Linked DNA regions of Homo sapiens: regions 2 and 3 are each linked to region 1. The links come from fine-mapping of genetic effects on gene expression. A gene starts in region 1. Each other region holds a variant in brackets. All regions are shown on one strand. Distances are from middle to middle. Region 1 holds the start of POLR1E (RNA polymerase I subunit E). Region 2 overlaps POLR1E (RNA polymerase I subunit E). Region 3 overlaps FBXO10 (F-box protein 10).

Evidence for each region.
Region 2: its variant is fine-mapped to the expression of POLR1E in whole blood (TOPMed, PIP 0.93).
Region 3: its variant is fine-mapped to the expression of POLR1E in tibial artery (GTEx, PIP above 0.99).

The regions. Positions count from the first base shown.
Region 1 is chr9:37,482,629-37,490,791 of GRCh38, reverse strand. It overlaps POLR1E (RNA polymerase I subunit E), which reads right to left and starts at 4,844. Exons shown (of 12, transcript NM_022490.4): 1 at 4,669-4,844; 2 at 3,986-4,089; 3 at 2,853-2,929; 4 at 1,392-1,477. The coding sequence starts at 4,744. It also overlaps the pseudogene RPL21P83. RefSeq lists a silencer at 4,717-5,046 and an enhancer at 4,788-5,379.
Region 2 is chr9:37,502,832-37,511,010 of GRCh38, reverse strand. It overlaps POLR1E (RNA polymerase I subunit E), which reads right to left. Exons shown (of 12, transcript NM_022490.4): 12 at 7,314-7,968. The coding sequence ends at 7,809. It overlaps FBXO10 (F-box protein 10), which reads left to right. Exons shown (of 11, transcript NM_012166.3): 11 at 1-119. Among named protein-coding and RNA genes, the nearest start is that of POLR1E, 21 kb to the right of the region's middle. The variant C/T (reference allele first, on the strand shown) is at 3,297.
Region 3 is chr9:37,522,412-37,530,590 of GRCh38, reverse strand. It overlaps FBXO10 (F-box protein 10), which reads left to right. Exons shown (of 11, transcript NM_012166.3): 5 at 1,331-1,467; 6 at 5,419-5,489; 7 at 7,614-7,766. Among named protein-coding and RNA genes, the nearest start is that of POLR1E, 41 kb to the right of the region's middle. RefSeq lists enhancers at 1,101-1,150, 1,251-1,620. The variant T/G (reference allele first, on the strand shown) is at 4,140.

The DNA.
Region 1 (8,163 bases):
AAGAAAGGTGATATCGTAGACATCAAGGGAATGGGTACTGTTCAAAAAGGAATGCCCCTCAAGTGTTACCATGGCTAAACTGGAAGCGTCTACAGTTTAGCATGCTGCTGGCATTGTTGTAAACAAACAAGGGCAAGATTCTTGCCAAGAGAATTAGTGTGCGTATTGAGCACATTAAGCACTCTAAGAGCCGAGAAAGCTTCATGAAACGGGTGAAGAAAGATGATTAGAAAAAGACAGAAGCAAAAGAGAAAGGTACCTGGGTTCAACTGAAGCGCCAGCCTGCTCCACCCAGAGAAGCACACTTGGTGAGAACCAATGGGAAGCAGCCTGAGCTGCTGGAACCTATTCCCTATGAATTCATGGCGTGACAGGTGTTTAAAAAATGAAAGACCTCTGGACTGTAAAAATGTTTCTCTTCATTGAGTAGAAGTGTGGTGTTCTCTCCCCCAAAGAAATATTTAAGGCAAATTTTAATTATGTCCTAGTTCATTATGTAATGTCTTTACTCTTCAAATTTAATGTATTTCTTGCTGAAAGACGTGAGGTAGCTTATTGTGCAACAAACTCCTCGATTGTTTAGAAAATGGCCAGGTATTACGTATGAAATATTTGTACTGGTTTGAAGATAGTCCCTTGAAATGATCAAGGAAGAAATAAAGTAATTTACAAAAATAAAAAATAAAAATAAAAAGAATGAAGGAAGTTCTTTTATGGAAAAGATTTTATATCAGACATGTCCTCTAATATTCTGCTCTGATCATTGCTCAGATTGCTTTTATGAACCTCTGACCTCAAGTCTCTAAACACTATGGGGACAGGATCTGTGTCTGTCTTGCTTACTGCCACATCCACAGCCCCAGCTTGGTGCCTGGTACATTAGGTTATCAATAAGTGTGTGCTGAATAAAAAACTCTAGGCCGGGCGCAGTGGCTAGCGCCTGTAATCCTAGCACTTTGGGAGGCCGAGGCAGGTGGATCACCTGAGGTCAAGAGTTTGAGACCAGCCTGGCCAACATGGTAAAACGCTGTCTCTATTAAAAATACAAAAATTAGCCGGGTGTGGTGATGTGCACCTGTAATCCCAGCTACTCGGGAGGCTGAGGTAGGAGAATCACTTGAACCCGGGAGGTGGAAGTTGCAGCGAGCCAATATCACACCACTGCACTCTAGCCTGGGTGACAGAGTGGGACTGCATCTCAAAAAAAACAAAAAACAAAAAACAGTGTGTATATAAAAAACCATTTTCTCAACACAGACAAAGCAGAAAAAACAGAATAAATAAATTAAAATAACTATAAAATGTGTTTTATAAATCTAAAACTCAAGCCAACTCATCCAGCAAACCCAAACTATGCATTATTTCTGTCAGCTTTCATGACTGGGACCTACCTGAAAATAGTGGCTGCATGTTGAACAATTCAGCATCATATACTTCCATTTGGCCAGAGGTCTTGTTCAAAATTCCCACAAAGTGCCTGAATAAAGAAGAAATAATACAAATAACAATGGATTATTCAAAAGCATTATTTGTACAGCTTTCTTTTTTTTTTTTTTGAGACAGAGTCTTGCTGTCACCCAGGCTGGAGTGGAGTGGCATGATCTCGGCTCACTGCAACCTCCACCTCCCGGGTTCAAGCAATTCTCCTGTCTCAGCCTGCTGAGTAGCTGGGATTACAGGCGCACGCCACCATCCCCGGCTAATTTTTGCATTTTTAATAAAGATGGGTTTCACCATGTTGTCCAGGCTGGTCTCGAACTCCTGACCTCAGGTGATCTGACCCTATCAGCCTCCCAAAGTGCTGGGATTACAGGCGTGAGCCACTGCACCTGGCCCTGTTTCCTGTTCAAAAGTTCTCAACCTTCTCTCTGCCCACACACCTGAGGAATGCATCATCTACTCATGGGTAACAATAATCTCCCCTACCCCTACCCCACAGCAATTCTCTGCATAGAGAGGGAATAGGAAAGGATAGGATGGGATGGGAGGATATGAGGTGGTTCTGGGAAAAAAAAAAAAGCTACTAGGTGATTCTGATAGTTGATCACATTTGGGCTCACTGCGGTAGTGTAATGGAAAACTCTTTTGGGGTGTACGAACCTAGAATTACACTACAATTTATGGCACAACAGTTTTATGGAGGCAAAATCAAGTAAACGGGGAGGAGACCAATTGGAACTAGGGCATCTCTGAGAGGGGAGAGTGCAGGGTTAATAGTTCTCAGCACCTATACACCCATCTGACCTCTCCTCTATTGGAGTATGGTCCACCGGGGCTCAGAAAGGGCCTAGTTTGTAGTTCATTGTTGGGTACCATCACAGGGCCCTGTCTGCATCATGCCAGCCCCCGAGAGTGATACAGTTCAGGCTGGACAATCTTCACTGTACAGAGGGGGAGGCTGGGGGTCAGTGATGCGCAGAGTTACCCAGCCACTCAGTCAATCAGCAGCACAGCTGGATGGGAATCCCAGGCTCCTCTTTCCCAGTCCAGAGCCTTCAACACTACCAAGTTCTTTACCTGTCGTTAGTTCCCAGGTAAACTTCACGCAAGCTTTGACCTACTAGTCACACATTCCAAATTAATGGAGAGACCTGCCTTTTGGAATAAGACAGCTATAAATAAACAAGATTACAAATGAATGAGGTTTTTAGGAAATTCAAGTTATCTTTCCTTTCCAGCAACGTCTACACGTGCAGGGAAGGGCTCTGGGTCTAATAGGAACACAGGGATCACCTAGTAAACCTCTCTAGATGGCTCCTGCTACCCTTAAAACAGACAGGAAACAGCAGTGCCAGTGCTGCCACCACTCCCAACCCCATCACCCTTCCCACTGTCCCTTCCCCTGCCATTACCTGCACAAAGTGTTGCATTTGAGGGCTCCAGTCCCAAAATTGTTTCCCACATAGGAGAGCCTATCTGTTTCAGCTGCCTAAAATGCAGAGAGGGGAAACTCCATTTACAACCAATGTTGAAAGGTATTAAGCATCATTTCTCTTTTCTACATTTGCTGAGGCTTTTGAATCCAGACTCACAATGGATTAGAACTAGTTCATCTCTGGCAGATGATCCAGCCCCACTATCTCTAAGGGAATATGGGGTGTCCCTGCAGGGGAAGCAAGACGACTTCTGGAAGAGAAGCCTCAGATGGTGCTAGCTTCTAAATGGTATGAAAAGCTCTTGGGGGAATTCTGCCACAAGACTTGAGAGAGAGGCCCTGGGCTTCTGGCACTTAAAGGTATGCAACAAAGTGATTCTGTAAGCAATCTCTCTTTGGCCTGTTCTTTGTATACTCTCAGGACCATGGCTGATTCACTCCCCAATCATAAGCAAGCTTTCCTGCTTCTCTGCATTTGTCCTCACTATCCTTTTCACTCGAAACACCAAACGTTGACTGCCAAACCCTCATTCCAGCCTTCAAGGCTCAGCTCCAACATGACCTCACCAAGGAAGGCATTCTGGCAGAGACCTCTCCTCCCACTGAGCTCACTCTGCCCTGTACTCTTCCCCACGTGGCCTCAGAGCTTTGTGTAAAAGTGTCCCTCACAGCCAGTTCTCATCTCTCTAGAGCAGAGGTTCTCAATCCAGGGAAATCCACTCTGGTGCTACTGGCATCTAATGAGTAGAGACTAGGGATGCTGCCCCCACAGCAAAGAATTATTGGCCCAAAAAGTCAATAGTCCTGAGGTTGAGAAACCCTGCTCTAGAGTATGAACTCTGAGTGGGGCTAGGCCTGATTTGGCTGTTTTCCTAGAAGCTTGCAGCACAGGGATGCAGAGGGGCAGGTTCCATAAATGCTTGTTGAAAGAACAAATGAATGAAAGATGGAGCCTGTCCCCACATCCCAGGCTGCTGGGCATCAGAGTTCTTCAAAGCTCCATTTGCTACTACTCCCCTTTTTCTCCCCTCACTCCCTCCCACATCCACCCACTCCCAGGGGCCTTCTGAGCCCTGCAGAGTGGAGACAGCTGGCAACTGCTTCACTTACCAGGATCCGTTGATTCCTCTTCCTGGGGTTGGTGGAATCTTTGTTCTCATACAAGGTAAAGCGCATGTTGCCTGGACTCTGTAGCTTCCCGTTGGAGAACTGGACTGTAAGAGTGCAGCCCAAGAATGAGATGAGAGCAGAAGGCCACACAATGTACCACACAATGTACGGTGGGACTAGACTGTCACTGGGAGGGAGTGTCAGAATGGGGATGGCAAGGAAGCTCGGGTCCTGACCCAAAGGGAACTGGAGGAGATCCGGGGCCAGCTGAGAAGAGGAGGTAGGGAGGTGGGAGAACCCTGGGGAGGGGCTGTGACAGGAGGGAATGTCTCGCGGAAGGAGGCTGACAGCAGAGGCCTGGTACATACCTAAAGTGACAGAAGGAACCCCTGCCCAGTGAAGAGAGGGAAATGGGGGAGGCGGGAGACCTGGTGGGTGAGGGGGTCAGCAGGGTCCTGGACACAGCTCTGGGGAGCGGGTGAGTGGGATGTCCCAATCTGGCTGGGAGGTAGTGACAGAAAGACGGACAGGGGAGCCCTGACAGAGCCCAGGGGAGTGGTGGAGACTAGAGGGGTCCCGGCCCCGCTGGGGAGAAGCCCAACGGAGGGCGAGAGGACAGCTGAGGTACCGAGACGGAAGGGGAGAGGGTTAGAGGAGCACTGCTCCAGCTCCGCAGTCTTTACCCAGTACAGCTCTCTGGCTCCCGTCGGGCGCCCCACAATACTGCCACCTCGCACTCGGCAACACCTCCGCCGCCATCTCGCCTGTCTGTCCGCCAAGCACAGGAGTTAAGACAGCAGCAGCCACAAGCGCACTTTTAAACACGCGGGAGCCCAGGCCGCGCTGCGGGCCGGAAAAGGCGTGGCCCCGCCGGGCACCGCCCACAGCGCGCGAGCCGCGTGTCCCCGCCCCCCGCGTAGAGAGGCGTGGTCTCCGCCCACAAGGTGCCACACACCCGCTTGACTGGCCGAGGCGCAGCACCTGATTGGCTCAGCGCTCGCGTGCACTCTGGGTTTTGTAGGTCCAGAGCCCGAGGCGCCAAAGGCTTCAGCCTAAGCTTGCTATGAGCCTTCTTCCGGCTCAGCACCTTCTAAAGAGAGTGTCGTCTCTCTCTCCTACCGTGACAAACTCATCTTCCCAAGACCTGAAGGACCAAGTTCAAATTTAGAATTCTCTGACAGGAACTGCTTGAGCCCCAACTAAATGTGGCCGCTGGCGAATAGCCGCCCCTCTCTAGGGCTTCCCACCCACCCACGTGGACATCCAGCTCTAGGTACAAACTTTGTCCACAGTCCGACAAACAGCTCCCCGCCATGGGCTGTGGCGTGCACACCTGTGGCCCAATCAACACTGAGGTGATGGAACAGAAGCCCAGCCAACCCCGGAGCCTTTGGGCAGGAGATTCTGGACTGGAATAGAAGAGGGAGTCCGAGCTGATGGACATGTCCCTTTTTCACTGCGGATTCAACCCTTCTTCTGCACGGGGAGTTTTCAGAGCAGAAAGAAGGCGAAAGCAGGGCCTTTAAGCATGGACGCTGGCCGAGGCCCCCTTTGCCCAAAGATGCGTACTATTGAAGGGCAAGAACTCCGGTTGACTCCCCTCTGTCTTCCAAATCACCTTCTTTCAAGACTCTTTTCCTTCCACACACCCTCAACACCCGCCTCCAACACCCAGGATCCTAGGAATAACCCTAAAGCCTGCATGCCCCTTTGCCTGAGCACTTGTCACGCTTTTCTAATTACCCAATCTCAAACGTAAAGAAACACTGCAAGAAATGTTTTTGCCCTGAACCATTTAGAGTAAGTTGTCAACCTGATACCCTTTCAACCCTGAAGACTATAGTATTTCCTACAGACATTCCCTAAATAACAACACAGCCATCAGAATCAGCAAATTGCCGGGCGCAGTGGTTCACGCCTGCAATCCCAGCACTTTGGGAGGGAGAGGCAGTTCTATCCCTTGATTCCAGGAGTTTGAGACCAGGCTGGGCAACATAACAAGACCCTGTCTCTACAAAAAATAATATTAGCCATGTGTGGTGGCGCACGCGTGTCGTCCCAGCTACTCGGGAGGCTGAGGTGGGAGGATTGCTTGAGCCTAGGAGGCAGAGGCTGCAGTGAGCTGTGATGGTGCCACTGCACTCTAGCCTGGGCGACAAAAAAAAAAAAAAAAATTAAACAGAAAAGAATCAGGAAATTAGCACTGGTACATTACCACCATGTAATCCTCACATCCCATTTAAGTTCACCCATTGTCCCAACGTTTGTTGTTAGTTTGTTTTTTGAGACAGGGTCTCACTCTGTCACCCAGGCTGGAGTGCAGTGTTGCAACCAGGGCTCACTGCAGCCTTGACCTTCCAGGCTCAAGTGATCCTCTCACCACAACCTGGGAATACAAGTGTGTGCCACCACACTCAGTTTTGTTTTGTTTTTTCTTAATTAAAAAAATTTTTTGTAGAGACTAGGTCTCACTGTGTTGCCAGGGCTGGTCTCAGACTCCTGGGCTCAAGTGATCCTCCCACCTTGGCCTCCCAAAGTTCTGGGATTACAGGCGTGAGCCATTGCAGCTGGCCCAATCATGTTTTTATAGCAAAAATGTCCTGTCAAGAATCATGTGTTGCATTTAGCTCTCATAGCCTTTCCTCCCTTAGAAGGCTACCTTGCTTGACCCCACCTCATGATTTTGGATTGAATTGTTCAGGAAAGGAAAAGGGAAGAAGAAGAAAGAAGAAAGAAGGATGAAGAAAGAAGAGCTTAATTGTGTGATTGTCTCACCCATTGATTGTTTCCTCACTAAACTTACTTGGGGTTCACAATAAACACTTTGGAGGTTAATAAACAAATTTATGTTTGTTTTGATCACTGCTTTATCTCCAAATCCTGAACATACTAGACCCTCAATAAATATGGAATGAATTAATGAATGACAGGGCAAAGAATGGGCCTGAATTATCACTAATCTTGGAAGCCTAGCACAGGGACTGGAACTCAAAGATGTTTGGTAATATTGGTTGAAATCAACTAGCATAGGGTTTACACATAACAGACTCTATAAATGTTTTTTGGTTGAATGAAAATATGAACAGTTAAATCAAAGTTAAAGGTGACCAAGATAACAGTGGCTACAATGAGCCAAGTATAGTTCTTAAGAGAAGTATCTTGTGATATAGGAACACATTATATGGCCTTGTTACTCATGATATAGGAACACATTGTATGGCCTTGTTACTCAAAGTGTGGTCCATGGAAACAGCAGCCTCGACAGCACCTGGGAACTTGTTAGAAATATAGGATCTCCAACCCTATCAAATCTTCTGCAACAGGATCTGCAGGTGATTCATGTGCACTTGAAGTTTAGGAATCACTGTTATACCGGACTGATTCCCCTTTAAGGCACATATTTGCCAGTCAGACAGATTATGTGCAAGTCCCCTGGATTGACTGTTTTGTAGCGAGGACAAAGAGTGAAGAGTACAACACACCCACTGAAGCAAAAACTCCTAGAATTACCACAGGCAAGAATTCCAAATGACGGAGATTCTATCCGTGGAAGCAAAGTGTTGATGGTCAGGCAGCTGGGAAGGGGATCATAGTATACCCCTGTGTTGTTTAATTATTTAACAGTTATTCAAAAGACACACCTATACACACCATGTACATATACATACGTGCCTGTGTAACTGGGATGGGGCAGGATGGAGGTGGGATGGGGCAGGATGGAGGGAGCCCTACATAGGCATTAACCAAAATGCAAAAACCTATAGTGGCCTCTTTTATTTTTTTATTTTATTTAATTATTTATTTATTTTTTTGAGGCGGAGTCTCACTCTTGTCGCCCAGGCTGGAGTGCAGTGGTGTGATCTGGGCTCACTGCAACCTCCGCCTCCTGGGTCCAAGCAGTTCTCCTGCCTCAGCCTCCTGAGTAGCCAGGATTACAGGTGCCCACCACCACGCCCGGCTAATTTTTGTAGTTTTGTTAGAGACAGGGTTTCACCATGTTGGCCAGGCTGGTCTCGAACCCCTGACCTCAAGTGATCCACCTGCCTCAGCCTCCCTAGGTGTTGGGATTACAGGCGTGAGCCACCACACCTGGCCAGGTGGCCTCTTTTATATTCAAATCGTGGATAATCACAGGCAAAATTTACCACATAATTTTTTTTGGAAATTTAGTTTGGAAA
Region 2 (8,179 bases), 20 kb before region 1:
AATGTGAGTCGCTGTAAAAAATGCTGCCGTTACTATTTTCTAAGAAATGACTTTTCTGTGAACCAACAGTAACAAAAACCTCAGTAACCAAAATAAAGTTCTATATTTTAAAAAAGGCACTTTTGGAAGCCTTTCCTTAGTCTGGGCATATACTGGGGCTCCCAGCTGGCCAGGCCCAGCACTGTTTCCTCTGAAGGAGACAGGAGAATCCTGGGGCCATCTTGTTGGGTCAGCTTGTTCCTGTGACAGTTCCAGATATAGGGCTGAAGGGCTCAATCGGGCTATAATTCCACTCCTGCCTGCTCTGTGAAGACAACAGAAACAGGCCGTCCCCATGGATCACTGGACTGTCAGCTTAGGGACCTCAGACCCCGGAGCACACTTCCCCAACTTCACTTACTCAGCATCTTAGAATTTTTGCTATATCCATATGTCACCTGAGAAGTTAGTACTTTTTTCTTTAAATCTACTTAATTTTTAGAAGTTTTAAATATGCAGAAAAATTGAGCAGACAGATGATTACTAGAGTTCCCATATCACCCTTGCCACCCCCGAGTTTCTGTGTTATTAACATCTTATGCTATCAGTGTACATTTGTAAAAATTCATAAACTAGTACTGGCACATTATTAACTAAAGTCCATAGTTTATTCAGATTTTTTTCTTTTTGAAACGGGATCTCACTCTGTTGCCCAGGCTAGAGTGCAGTGGTGTGATCATGGTTCACCGCAGCCTTGACCTCCTCAGGCTCACTCAGGTGATCCTCCCACCTCAGCCTCCTGAGCAGCTGGGACTACAGGCATGCACCACCACGCCTGGCTAATTTATGTATTTTTTTGTAGAGACGGGGTTTTGCCATGTTGCCTAGCCTGGTCTCAAACTCCTGGGCTCAAGTGATCCGCCTGCTTCAATCCCCCAAAGTGCTGGGATTACAAACATGAGCCACTGTGCCTGGCCTCAGATTTCTTTAGTTTGTTACCTAATGTCCTTTTTCCATTCCAGGATCCCATCCTACAACATGTCTTTTTTTCACACACTGAAAAGACTTTTTATATTACTATAAACATACATTAAACTATTAAAATGAAAATATTCATTGGTTTTGGTAGTTACTGTTTGCTGCCCCTCAGGGAGAGTACATGCCCTCTCACGTTGCCATGGGACCTGATTTGCCCAGTGAATGTAGGCAGAAGTGGTTAATGGTCACTTCTGGGTAGAAGCTTTAAGGGCCAGCAGAACTTGCCCCGATCGTGTGTCCCTCTGCCAGTGGACCACCACGTGTCAGACATGGCAGCCCGAGTCCCGGGGTGAAGCTAACCCGGAGCAGGGTCCCAGGTGCCTGCTGGCTGACAGACATGTGCCAGACATTCAACAAAAGCAAATGAACTTTTGTTGAAACCAGACATTTGAGGGCCATTTGTCACTTCAGCTTAGCCTAACCAGCAGAACACAAGTACTTTACTACATCCCTGAGCCACCTAAAATCATCGTAAGTTCTGTCAATAATGTATTAAACATTGACTTGGTGAGCTCATTGTCCCCATTTTGGAGGCTGGGAGTGCTGATGCTCCTGAGATCCGGCAGGGGAAAGTTCCCTATCAGATGTGGAGAGGTGTGAGGAGGGCTATTACCTGGAGCAAAGGTGGCAGGGAAGGGAACAGCTGGGACACAAATTCCCTCCAGGTCATTTGGAGGCAGAAGTGGGAGGAACAGAACACCCACCTTAGCTCTTGTGTTTGGGGAAGAGTCAGGGAGTGCGGGTGCTTTGCACAACAGGCCAGACTTGCCCAAGAAAACTGAGCCCATCTAACTTTTTACTTAATTGAGCCAAAGTCTCTCTCCCTCGCTAAATTCTACCCCTCCTTCAGAAGCTCCTTAGTCACTACTTCTATGGAACACCTTCCCCTGTCTCTACAAATAACAGTTAACTGCGCCTTCTCCATGCTCCTGTGCCCACTCAGCCACATGCCACCTGCAGATGGCACTGAATCCTCTCTTTTCAGTCTGTTGGTTGAGGGCAGGGACTTTGCCCATCTTGTTCACTGTTGATTCTCTATGCCCAGCACAGAGCAAAGCTCACTAAGTGTTGGATGGATGGCGGACAGACAGGCAGACAAATGAGGAAACAAACCCAACCTCATTCCCAGAATCTCTACCTCCTGGGGCCCCCAAAGGACATCTCTTCACTCTGTTCTGTGACAACTCTTCAGAGATTTGCAGGCAGCACCCTCATCCCCCTGGGGTCTGCTGCCCTCCTGGGTTCCTCTCGTATGTGCCAGTTTGCAGGGTGTCTCTTCACCACCCTGGTCATTTCTCTAGACTCACTCCAGTGGCCTGGGTAGGTCTGGGAGAGCCCAAAGAAGCAGAGTTGAGGCGTCCTGTCCTGTATCTCAGGAGGAATGGCCCAGCTCCATGGGCAGCACTCACGGATCTAAAGAGAATTCTCTAAAGTACTGTGTTTCCTTGGAATCATTTGCTTTCAGTCTGCAGTAGCTTCCCTCCCACCCACAGGAATACTGCCATGGGTGAAGGCTTCACTCTGGTGCAGAGTTCACAAGAGGTTCCAGCTGACCTCTACCCAAGCAGCTTATACTGTGTCCTCCCTGGACTTCCCTGTTGGCCAGTCAGGCCCAAACACGGATGTCTGCTGATGGGAATGTACAAGCACAGCAAACACCAGTATGATTTCATCATCTAGGCCTCCAGGTCTTGGTGAGGCCACTGCCCTGGTGCCCAGAGGAAGTCCTAAGTACAGCGGATGTGGACATGGTATGGCCAGACCAGGCAAGAGCCAGAGATGAGCCTTGGAACAGCACATGAGCCTATACTGTCAACAGCACCCCTGGGCCCACCTTCTTCAATCTCCCTTCTGACAACACAGAGCAAGCTTTCTCTCCAAATGCTTCCTCATGGTGGGCTCATGTGGGGCATGCTGGGCTTATTCCTACCCGGATCAGCCTCCCGACACAGGCATGCTCGCCCCATTGGTACCTTCTCACTACCCTCCAGACCTCTGCAGGGTGCCCTTCATGGAGCTCCTGAGCCCGTCAGCTGTGTAGTGTGCTTTTTAAATGAAGTCAAACCTAGCATGGCCTCCTGGTGCAGCCTGAGCTCCCCATCACAGAGCTGTCACCTCTACCCCGAGCCTAGTTCTTGCCTGAGTGCAGCTGAAGATCCCATCTGTCTGGTGGTCAGGATTGCATTTCACTTCCTGCTTCAGGCCCATCATTCATGTCATCCGCTATTCTCCGCTAAAAGGCCAGAGCTCCTTGGATAAAAGACGGATTCAAAGCTGGG[C/T]GTGGTGGTGCATGCCTATAGTCCTAGCTACTCAGGAGGCTGAGGCAGGAGGATGGCTTGAGCCCAGGAGTGGAGTGAGCTGACTGCACCACCGCTCTCCAGCCTGAGCGACAGAGCAAGACCCTGTCTCTAAAAAGCAAAACCACAACAAAAGACTGACTCCAGGGCTGCAGCAGGGAAAGTACAAGGTAGGCCTGGAATATCTCATGCTAGAAAGTAAGGAAGCACCCTTAAAATGATGGGATCCAGGAGGTTTCCTGAAGGAACTCAAGATTGGCCAAATACATACAATCTGGACATCACAAGGAATCACAGTAACAGACTCCACATAGAACACAAGACTCTTGAGTCTATGCCAATAACTAAATGAACACAAAACTTCTAAGGTCGAGAAAACAAACTGCCTTATAAGAGCATGCCAATAATTAGAAGAAACGATAATGTTGCAAAATCACCATTTTGCAACCATCTTGGTAATTGATTCAGCAAGAATCATCAATTGAGGCTGAAACTAGTAGGTGAAAGTTTGATGAGGAACAGGATACTTAGTTTCAAAGTATCCCTCCAGAAATTACTTATTAAAAGGAAAAACAGTATCTTCACAATGCGGAAAACACAACCTTAACTGATAAAAGTTAACAGCAGCAAGGAAAGCGCAGTCCCACATCATGGGCCCCTAATGTGATGCATGTGGGTCACAGCATCATTTCTGTGCTGTTCCTGCCAAAAATGTAAATCCTGAATCCGATCACGGGAAAGCCCCAAATGTAAACTGACAGACACCCTAAAGAATAACACCTCACTCTCCAAAATGTCAAAGCCGAGAAAGTCCAATAAAAATCTGAACTGTTTCAGATTAAGCAAGACCAAAGAGGCATGGTGATCGGTAAGATTTGAACATGAACTGTGGGCTAAGTCATAGTATTGCATTATTGTCTTATTTCCTGCATCTGATGGACTGTGGTTATGGAAGAGAAAGTCCTGATTCTTAAGATGTACACACTGAAAAAGTACTTATGGGTAGAAGGGTAGGATGTTTTCCTCAAATGGTTCAAAAACAAATCTCAAAATGTCTAAAGCAAATAGTAAATGGGACAAAGTATTGACAGTTGGAGAATCTGGGTAAAGGATATACAAGAGTTCTTGCAAGTTTTCTCTGTGTGAAACTATATCAAAATACTTTTTTAAAAGAGGAGACACTTGAAAGAATGTTATGTAATTTACTATTTCCAGGTTAGGGTCTCCTGCAAATGTGGTAACTATGCCTTCTTTGACCTCATCCCAATTAACAGTGTCCAGCAGGTCAGGGCAGCAAGCAAAGACTTCCCTCTAAGGAACAGACTTCATTCTGTTAATCAAACCCTGCCAAGTTAAGACTATCCCACAAACTACAAATCTTCAGGGCACCAGCATCTGGCTCATAGTCCCCCTTTCTTCAATGAGGCCATCAGGAGACATTCTGGCAAATAGCTTGGTGAGATCAAGGTATCCTCTGGGAATCTATTAGTAAACAAATGGGTTTCTAAAGCCAGAAGAAACCCTAGTACAATCCCATTATTCTGCAGGTATTTACCACCTAATAACCCTGCCAAGGAAAGTACGGTTCATGCCGACTCATTCTGCAGACACTGACCACTTTCTATGTCAGGTATTGTGCTAGGTGGAGCCCTCTTCTGAGCCTTTCCTAAGGACTCACAAATCTCCTAATGTACAGAAATTTGCTTTTTAGCCTCTTGGAATGTGTCCCCGACATTTAGCAAAATACACCTGTTGACACACGACAAGTATTTGCCCGCCTAGTCTTTCCCTATCCATACCTACAGTCATTACCACCTGCTTCTCCACTAGGTCAGAGGTTGTTCAGAGGGTCCCAGCCACATGCTGTGTCCAGTCATTCCCAGAAATTAAGCCTCCAAGTGTCAAACCCAGCTGAATTTTAAAAGTAATCACAAAAGGCTGGGCGTGGTGGCTCACGCCTATAATTCCAGCACTTTGGGAGACCGAGGCGGGCAGATCACCTGAGGTCAGGAGATTGAGACCAGCCTAACATGGAGAAACGCTGTCTCTACTAAAAATACAAAATTAGCCGGGCATGGTGGTGCATGCCTGTAATCGGGAGGCTGAGGCAGGAGAAGCACTTGAACCCGGGAGGCAGAGGTTGCAGTGAGCTAAGATCACGCCATTGCACTCCAGCCTGGGCAACAAGAGCGAAACTCCATCTCAAAAAAAAAAAGTAATCACGGAAACACATTCTACCCTGAGGATGTATTAGAAGTCCTTTTCTGAGAGATTATTTTTTCCAAGGAAGAGTCACATACTTGATTTTCACAACGGCTTAAAGGAAAACAAGAGACAAGTAGATTCCCTGCCCACACCTCTGCTGAAGGAAGACAAAGTATGCTCCAAGTGCCTCCTACCCAGGGCCAGAGGCAGATGGGGACAAAGCAGAGGAGCACAGCTCTGAGGGCATCCCAGACCGCAAAGAAAATAAGGTGCACCTGCCCCAAAGCTCAGCCAAGACTCCTTTCCACTGTGACTCCCAAATGGAGGGCCCCAGGTGCTGTGTAAACTTCTCCTCTCAGAGGAGCTGAGTTCTGTCTCCCTCCCTTCACTGACCCGGCCTCCCAGGTGCTGAGTGTCACAGATCTCAACTGCTCCCACTTGAAGCAGGACCCTGAGATGTGAGACTGGGCCCAGGCCACGTACCTAAGCCTTCCTGTGTCACACTCCTGTCCTTATAGCACCGCTCTGGACACAGCTTCTCCATCTCCTCAGTGGCACATACAATTGGTTGGCAGTTATAATCCACTCATGTCCTTCTAGAATGCCTCCTGTAACTAGAGGCTGGTGAGCTGAAACCTATTTCAAAGACTCCCATTCTGCTAGGATTCTACATGCTAATCAGGCTCCTATATATGCGCACCAGAAGGAAGCAAGGTGGAGGCCAGCTGCTTGACCTTCTGGCTGTCTGTGGTGACAAAGTGGTGGAAATACAGGACCTTTGAAAGCACGGGTAGGCTGGGCACGGTGGCTCACACCTGTAATCCCAGCACCTTGGGAGGCCAAGGCGGGTGGATCATGAGGTCAGGAGTCCAAGACCAGCCTGGCCAACACAGTGAAACCCTGTCTCTACTAAAAATGCAAAAAAATTAGCTGGGCATGGTGGCGCATGCCTGTAATCCCAGCTACTCGGGAGGCTGAGGCAGGAGAATTGCTTGAACCAGGCCATGGGAGGCGGAGGTAGCAGTGAGCGAGATCGTGCCACTGCACTCCAGCCTGGGCTACAGAGCAAGACTCTGTCTCAAAAAAATAAAAAGAAAAAGAAGAAAGCATGGGTAGCTGAAATCAGCAGCCCAGTGTTGAATCTTCAGCTGCATGAATTCCAGGAGCAGTTATGGAGCAGAAGTGGCTTCTGAGTCCCCGATGGCAACCCCGGCAGTGTGTTCTTGAATTCAGCAGTCCTGACGGCAACCTTCCGATTCCCAGTCCTCTGGCCCTTGTCACAATTCTACAGCACCTTATCCATACATTAAAATCCATTCTTCTTAAGATACCTAGAGCAATTGATTTTCTGAACTGAACACTGACTGATTCATCCTCTTCAAAGTGTGGCTTTCATAGCTGACCCCTGCCTTCTATGTGGCCTCCACCAGACAGAGAAATTGGGTCACCACTTCCTCTGACTTGGCTCCACCCCATTACAACAGGCTGTATCCTACTGGCCTGTGGCAGCCCCCATCACACTGGTGACCCAGTTAGCTTCTGATAAAGCCTGAAGTGTCATTTCCCAGGCGTGCTGGGCCAGATCCTCCTTCCTCACTGCGTACTCCACTGGCCCTTCCAGACCTAAGCACGCCACTTCACATTTCTCTTTGGAAACCTTCATCCATTAGATTTGACTCAGCCTGGTGAGTCAACTTTGGGAGGGAGGACCCACCCTCCCAAATCCCCACAGGTGAACCAACATGAGAAACATCTGCCATTTATAATCACAGCAATAATACCAAAGGAGAGAGATGAAGTCCAACCTGGCCATCGCTTTATATTTCTGCATAAGACAAGCACAGTTGAGATGCTGGCTTCTGGCTTCATACCTGTGCTAAAGCAAGGCTTCTTTTTTCCTTATGTTACTTTTTTGAGACAAGGTCTCACTCTGTGACCCAGGATGGAGTGTGGCCACACAATCATAGCTCACTGCAACCTTGATTTCCCAAGCTCAAGTAATCGTCCTGCCTCAGCCTCCCGAGTAGCTGGGATTACAGGCGCACACCACCAGGCCTGACTCTTTTTTTTTTCCTCCGGTAGAGATGGGGTCTCCCTATGTTGTCCAGACTGGTTTCAAACTCCTGAGCTCAATGATCTTCCTGCCTCGGCCTCCCAAAGTGCTGGGATTTCAGGTGTGAGCCACCATCCCCGGACCTTTTCTTTTCAAAACATACATAAAAATGGAAATGAATAGGACCAGCCAGTGGCTGTGATGCAGCCAAAACGCCCTGTCTGGAAAGCATGCGTCTAGGTAATCTTCCTCCGCTTTGCCAGGCGGTCTGAGGTCTGGGCTGGAGGCAGCGGGAGGGACAGGGTGCCCAGCTTGTGATCTTCTTCACTGCCGGCGGCCACAGACACCCTTCTTTTGGAGATCTTCAGCCTCATGGCTTTGGCTATCTCCATCATCCTAAGGAAGACATAAACAGAAGAACTGGAGAGACCCCTCAACATGACTGTTCAGGGAGGTTTGGCAAAAGGTAGCAGCACATTCATGCTCCAGGCCATAAAGACAGAATCCCAAAGGTTGCCAGCAGGCACAAAGCCCCTGGCAGAGAGGCAGGCAAGGTCCCCTCACCCGCTGGGAACCATCAGACAGCCAATTTCATTTTAATGCCCTT
Region 3 (8,179 bases), 40 kb before region 1:
GCCAACCCCTTCCCCTCACTGTGTTTCTACCATGCAGCTGGTGGTTGATGCATGGCTTTGGCTTAGGAAATTATTGCCCCTCTGGCTAGAGAGATGAGGGGTTTGCCCTTCTGAGGACAGAGGGATAGCAGGTGGAGGGGGAAGGGAGTGGTATATTTTAGTCCTGGCGTTGTGAAAGGGTGTAGGGATGGAAATGCTGCTGCATACTCCTTTTGGAGCTCTTCAGCCCTGTGCGGGACTTCTCTTAGGCAGTGGTTGCTCTGATGAGCCTGCCAAATCCTTCAGGAAAAATCTGGAAAGAGTAAGAATAAGGAGAGTTTGCACACGAAACACTTTAAAGCCAACTAGAACTTTATTTCTGCGAAATCATTTTGGAAGAGATACAGCTAACTTCCCAATTTACAAAGTATAGAATTGGACTTCAGCTATAAATTAACTTAGAGTGAGATAATTTTATTATTATTCTAATCTAAAAATATTAAGTCACTGTGCAAAAGCAACTAACTGGAATGGGAAAGAGAAAAACTAGATTTCAGATCTGGCTTTTCCACAAATGTACTATATAATCGTGGGCCTGTTTTCCCATTCGCACAAAGAGATATTAGAAATGAATATCTTGCCGGGTGTGGTGGCTCACACCTGTAATCCCAGCACTTTGGGAGGCCAAGATGGGAGGATCACTGGAGGCCAGGAGTTCAAGACCAGCCTGGGCAATGAAGCAAAACCCTGTCTCTACCAAAAAAAAAAAAAAAAGATATCTCTTGGCATTCTGTAGCTCATACACCTTCTAAGACCTTATGCCCCATGGGACAGCTTGGCCCCCCAGTGTCTGCATCTTCCGCTGGCCCTCCCTAAATGAGAAAGGACTAGAAGTCAAACAACTGTGACCCCTCTCTGGATGTGGCCCCTTTAGGACTGCAGTTGGCCAACATTTGGTTGCACTGGGGTGCTGCCTTTCCTCAAGAGATGGCCTCCCTGGACCCTAGAAGTTATGGCCTGGCCAAATGATTATGTGTTTAGGGGACTCATTAGAGGCTCTGAAACTTTCAGTAGCCTGCCTTGCAGGTGAAGACCAAGAGCCCTCCTAAGAGGCTGGGCAGCGAAGACTCCAGTCTTCATAGTCTCCCTTACAGGTTTTCATGTGTGTACTGGTGCAGGAAGGGCAGGGCGGCAGTGTGACCCATTCCCTTTGTCACGGGCTAGGGCTCTTACAGTGACGTCATTTTCTCCACTGTGTTCATCCTGCCGCGGAGGTGTGGGCGGCACCTGGGCACTCTGCTTCGCTGACGTGTCTGATCTGGCTTCTGTGGTGTCTCATTTTCACTTGCAGTGTAACCAGATCCACCATGGCCTTCGCTCTGGCATTGTCGTCCTTGGCAATGGGAAAGGCATCATCCGGAACAATCAAATCTTTTCCAATAAGGAGGCTGGCATTTACATCCTGTACCACGGAAACCCCGTTGTGAGGTGTGTGCTGCTGTTTCCCTCCTTCATCTTTGTTAACCTCCTCCCTGTCTCTCCTCCATTTGAAAACACTCTTTACGGAAACAACTGTACAGATGCAAGCAGAGAAGAGACTTCACTCATCATCCCACCCCAGTAACACAGCGGCTTTTGTGTTTATGTGCCCTTCCAGTGAACTCCGTGTAGGCGTTCTATTCGGCAGTCACTACTGAGCACTTCCAACATGGGCAGGCTCTGCTCCCTGGGAGCTTACTCTAGCCTGGAGAAATGGGCACAGAAGTACCCCCAGGCAGGGATGGAACAGAGATTTCAGCTCACCTAACAGTTTCAGTTACTTGCTAGTGGTGCCTGGGGGTGCTGTGTCAACATCCTGGTGCTGCACCTGGCCTCAGCACAAAAGCATGCTGTGGTCAGGGACTGATATAAGTGATAGGTGGGAGGCAGCAGTGGCAGTCCTGGGACCCTGTCTGCCATCCCAGCTCTAGTATGGGGCAGACTGTGATAAATGCTGTCAGAGTGGTACCAGAAGGAGAGACTCATTCTGACTAGGAGGATGTGGGAAGGCCTCATTTAGGAGGTAGCATCAGAGTCAGACTTTGGAATATGGGTAAGACTTGGACTCATGGAGATAGGGGTAGGGAGGGGTCGGTGGATGTTCCTAGTAATGGAACAGCATGAGCAAAGGCAGCAGGGCACAGCAGATTCAGGGGTTAGCAAACCGTTGACGGTGGCTTGAGAAAAAATCTGACATGGTGTGACAGTGCTATAGAATATTTTAAATTGGGATGGTCCCAGAATATCTTGGGCCCTGTGGTCACTGCAGTGTGACCCTTGACGTCCTTGCGGCAGACCATCTGTGCCACACAGCAGAGTGGAAAGGAATGATGGAAAGAAAGGCTTGGGCCAGATGAGGAAGGCCTTATGTAGACCAAGCTGAGGCGGGGGAGCCTATTCTGTCTACACAGCGGGGACTCATTAAAGGCTCTGAGCAGAAGACTCACACAGTTATGTCTGTGCTTTAGGAGAATAGCTGGCATTAATGGGCAGCAAGTATATTCAGAGCGCTTTCCCCCAGCATTATTCCATAGGTACTTTGTCTCCATGTTGTTGCATGCATGGCCTTTACATTCATCACTTTGGAAAGTTTCACCATATTCCAGTATTTCGATATGCCATAATTTTTGAACCAGACCTAATTGCTGGTTCAAAAATTACGGAATATAATCCTATTTTTCACTGTTACAGACAGCTTACTAAAAACAATTAGTGGTCATAGAGCTCTTTCCCTTCTTCTGCATTATTGCCTGAACAGAAGAGTGTGTATTTGTATGTGTGTGTGCTGTTCATTGAACACACATTCCAGCCACTCTATATAAGGGGGCAGTGATATACAACATGTACAAGAACAGTCCCTGCCTGCCCCATGGAGTTGACAGTCTTATGCTGGAGATGGACACACACTCACACAGCCATGATGGAAGACTCACCAAAATGAGCACTTTACTAGGCATTCATGCAGACTGACCAAGGAACTCAGCCGTGATCTCAGCTGAGCATGTCAGGGAGCTGACATTTGAGTTGTGCTTGAAAGATAAATAGGATTTTATGGCCAGGGAAAAGGCATTCTGGGCCAGAGGCAGTGAAATTCAGGGTATGTCTGAGAAAATGGTGAGAAATGTGGTGTGTTTGGACACGAGATACCAGAGGGATAGTGCAAAGGCAGGTTGTTGCTGGACGGCAGAGGACCTTGAATGCCAAGCATGATAGGCAGAATAATGGCCCCAAGGATGTCCATGTCTTAGTCCCTGAACCCTGTGCATATGTTGCCTTACAAGGCAAGAGGAACTTTGCAGATTTGATTGAGTGAAGGACTTTGGAGAAAGATGAAAGGAGGTTATTTTGGATGATACAGGTGGGCCCAGTGTAACCACAGGCCCTTATGAGAAGGAAGCAGGGGAATTAGATTAAGAGAGCAGGGGCCGGGGCGGTGCCTCATGCCTGTAATCCCAACACTTTGGGAGGCCGAGGCGGGCAGATCACTTGAGGTCAGGAGTTCGAGATCAGCCTGGCCAACACGGTGAAACCCCATCTCTACTAAAAATATAAAAAATAGCCAGGTATGGTGGCAGGTGCCTGTAATCCCAGCTACTTGGGAGGCTGAGGCAGGAGAATCGCTTGAACCCGGGAGGCGAAGGTTGCAGTGAGCCGAGATCGTGCCACTGCACTCCAGCCTGGGTGACAAGAGCGAGACTCCATTTCAATAAATAAATAAATAAATAAATAAATAAATAAATAAATAAATAAAATATTTTAAAAAATAAATAAATAAGAGAGCAGGAGATGTGAGGACAGAAGCAGAAGTCAGAGTGATGAGGCCACAGCCCAAGAAGTGCAGGCGGCCTCTAGGAGCTGGAAAGGATGAGGAGTGGATTCTCCCCGGAGCCTCCAGATAGAACACAGGTCTGCTGACACTTTGATTTTAGCCCTGTGAAACCCATTTTGAACTCCTGGCCTCCTGAACTGAAAGATAGAAATTTGTATTGTTTTAAGCCACCAAGTTTGTGGTAATTTGTTATAGTAACAATAGGAAACTAATACACCAAGCTGAAAAGTCTGGGCTTTACCTTGGGGATGCTGGGGAACCATGAAAGAGTTTTGGGTGAGGAATATCATAA[T/G]TAGATCAGTGTTGGGTTTTTAAAACATAGTCATCTTGAGAGAATAGGTTGTGCTTTTTTCCTTTGTTTCTTTGCAATGAGAGATAAGAGTCTGGAGCAGGATACGGAATGAAGTTTAAGATCCCTGTAATGGCCTGGATGAGACAAACCATAGGATCTATTTTTGCCACAGAAAGTTATATTTTTTGTCTTTTTATATGTTATATATGTTTCTCTTTTTTCCTTGGATGCAGAGAAGCACAGGACTCAAATTGTGCTCATCTGCAGTTAATATCCCATCCTGGGCTCTTGGTACACTGATCTGTCCCCTTCTTCTAAGTGTTTTCTCATCCCTCCTGTATCTTTATTCTGCTTGCCCCATGTACACACATACACACACTTCTCCAGGTGGCCACGGATCCTTTCTGGAGGTGAGATTTGTAGTAAAAATATGCCAGGGCTCAGTTACTCATGCTGGTAGTCCCAGCTACTTGGGAGGCTGAGGTGGGAGGATCACTTGAGTGCAAGAGGTTGAGGCTAGCCTGAGCAACATAGCGAGAACCCATGTCTTAAACAAAAAAATTGTAAACATTTTCTGGTTCAAACATTTGAGGGTTGGATAAAATACATATAAGGCCAGGCGCGGTGGCTCATGCCTGTAATCCCAGCACTTTAGGAGGCTGAGGCGGATGGGTCACTTGAGGCCAGGAGTTCGAGACCAGCCTGGGCAACGTAGCAAAACCCCATCTCTACAAAAAGTACAAAAAATTAGCTGGATGTGGTGGCGCACACGTGTAATCCAGGCTGAGGCACGAACATCGCTTGAACCCAGGAGGTGGAGGTTGCAGTGAGCTGAGATTGTGCCACTGCACTCCAGCATGGGCAACAGAGCAAGACCTCAAAAAAAAAAATGTATATATATATGCATGGGTATATATGTAGATGACAGTCAAGTGAGGCTACAGTGAACTGGATATCATTGTGCGTGTATAGCATAGTTGGGGGTTTAGTTTTTGGTCAAGCTGTCCCAGTGACAACTAAACATTTCTATATGCCTGGCTTATAAAGGGACTTTAGGAAATGCTTTTATGCCCCTGTGGACTTGAGCCATAGGGAGGCTCAAGTGATCCTCCACCCCAGCCTCCCAAGAAGCTGGGACTACAGGTGCACACCACCACACCCGGCTAATTTTTTTGTATTTTTTGTAGAGACAGGGTTTCCATGAAAGAAGGCAGTCTCCTGGAAGCATGACATTGATGCCCTGGGCTCACCTCTTTGTTTTGTTTTCCTTCCACTTTAGCGGGAACCACATCTTCAAGGGCCGTGCTGCCGGCATAGCAGTGAATGAGAACGGCAAAGGCCTCATCACAGGTACGGATGGGAACTGCCTGGCACCTGGCAGCCAGGCCAAGGTCCCCTGGCGTCACCCCCCAGCTTCAGGACCTCACACTGCTCCTTTACCCCCACAGACTATGGCCTCTTTCTCTGACTGGTGGGCTGGAGCTCAGGGACGCCAGCTGCATGGTGGCTGTGCTTCTTACAGGAGGGCCTAACACAGAGTGGGTGTCTGCTCCTTCCAGGCCCAGAGCCGACAGGCCCTCACAAGGTGGCTCACAGAACAGTTTCAGAAGCACTGATGCCCAACCACCTGTCCAAATCCCTCCTCTTGGTCTTTGTGCGGACCTCTGCCTGCTCTGGAAACCTCCGCCCGGCTAACCCCTGCTTATCCTTTGGGTCTTAGCTTAACTGTCACTTCCTCAGGGAAGCCTTCCCTGACTTCCCCATTGTACACAGATACACTCACTATACCCAGGATGCCTCCTCTCTAGGGCCTTTGACTTAATTTCTTAGTGGTTTGTGGTGTCCGTCTCCTCTGTTATAAAGTGGTAAATTCCACAAGGTGAGGGTCAAGTCCATCTGGTACATCAATGTAGCCTCAGCACAGAGCAGAGCCAGGCCTGGGATATGAAAGGGATTCCGCAAATACTGGTCCAGGGAATCCCCCTGACTGAACTTATCAGACATGGATTGAGCACGTGTGGTATACAGGCCGTGTTCCAGGAGCTACAAGTGCAGCAGTGAACGAGGCTGTCAGCCACTGACATTTTAGGAGAGGAAGCGAATAAATAAATAAAAGCCTACGTATATGAGCAAAAAACATCCCATCTGAGGGTGACAAGTGCTCTATGGATAATTAAGGCAAAAGAGGGACTGGGTAGGCATTTGGGATTGTGTGGTCAGGGCAGCCCTCTGAGAAGGTGACAAGGAAACCAGACCCTGAGTGGGAGTGGCTGGAGGAGCTGGGAAAGAACCTTCCGTGTAGGGCCGCCTGTGAGAACAGACTTGGCATGGCCGAGTGGACATCGCTTGTGGGACTGGAGTGTGGTGCACAAGGGGCCTGCAGTGGGGACATGGAGACAGGAAGAGGCCAGTCACACAGAGACTCCTGAGCCATTGCAGGTGAGGCTAGCGCCTTCTCACAGGCTTGTGGGTAAATGGCCACATTCTGCCTCTGAGGACTCTAAAGCCAGTTTATTTATTTATTTTTTTTGAGACGGAATTTCACTCACTCTTGTTGCCCAGGCTGGAGTGCAATGGCGCGATCTCGGCTCACTGCAACCTCCGCCTCCCAGGTTCAAGTGATTCTTCTGCCTCAGCCTCCCGAGTAGCTGGGATTACAGGCATGTGCCACCACGCCCAATTTTGTATTTTTAGTAGAGACGGGGTTTCTCCATGTTGGTCAGGCTGGTCTCGAACTCCCGACCTCAGGTGATCCGCCCGTCTCAGCCTCCCAAAGTGCTGGGGTTACAGGCGTGAGCCACCGCACCCGGCCTATTCTTTGTTTTGTTTCCTTTTTGTTTGGTTGGTTGGTTTTTTGGACACCAGTGTCACTCACCAAAGCTAGTTTATTCTTTTTTTTGAGGCAGGGTCTCAGTCTGTCATCCAGGCCAGAGTGCAGTGGCTCGATTATAGCCCACTGCAGCCCTGACCTCCAGGGTTCAAGTGATCCTCCCACCCAGCCTCCCAAGAAGCTGGGACTACAGGCACGCACCACCACACCTGGCTAATTTTTTTTGTATTTTTTTTTAGAGACAGGATTTCCCCATTTTGCCCAGGATGGTCTGGAACTCCTGGGCTCAAGTGATCTACCCGCCTTGGCCTCCTAAAGTACTGGGATTACAGGCATGAGCCACCATGCCTGGCCAAAACTAGTTCATTTTTAATCATCAGTCCTCAAGGCCATTGGGTGTATAGTAGGTGCCGGGGAGATAGGAGTGCACAAGATAGACACAAGCCTTGCCCTTGGGGAAAGGAGTCAGCAGATAAGTCCCTGAAACATCAGACAGCAGACAAGATTTACAGTGCTAATTGCTGGCAGGGTAAGGCCAGGGCCTTCTGGTCTGGAGTAGCCTTGATCAAAACTGTCCAAGTCCTATTTGCCAGCACTGGAGCTGGCCCTTGGGTACTGACCTTCTTTTCTGCTTCTCTCCATAGAAAATGTCATCCGTGAGAATCAGTGGGGAGGTGTGGACATCCGCCGTGGAGGGATCCCCGTTCTCAGGAGTAACCTCATCTGCTTTGGCTATTCAGATGGTGTGGTTGTGGGAGACGAAGGCAAAGGCCTCATAGAAGGAAATACCATCTACGGTGAGGAGCTTGTTCCCAACCCAGCCGGGGAGGCAGGAAGCCCAGGTTCCATCTCCAGCTTGTGGGTCCTGAGAAGGTCACTGCCTTTCCCTGTGCCTCAAAGACCTCATCTGAACAGGCACTCTCAGGCCACAGTCACCCAGGCCCTCCCAGAACAAAGAGCCTCTTACAAATCACATTGTAGTCCAGATTGACCCCGTGGGGTTAGCAAAGCAGAAGGCTTTATCCCCTTTTAAAATAGCAAAAGACAGGAGTTGTGTCATGTCTTAAGGACAGGACCATTTCAGCCCTGGCTCATGTGCATCTAACTCCTCTTATCCTTTCTTTTGATCCCAGAGAACGGAAAATATAATGGGAAAACAAGATAATCACAGGAAGAAAACTCTTCTCACTCACGCAGTGACTTTGGGCAG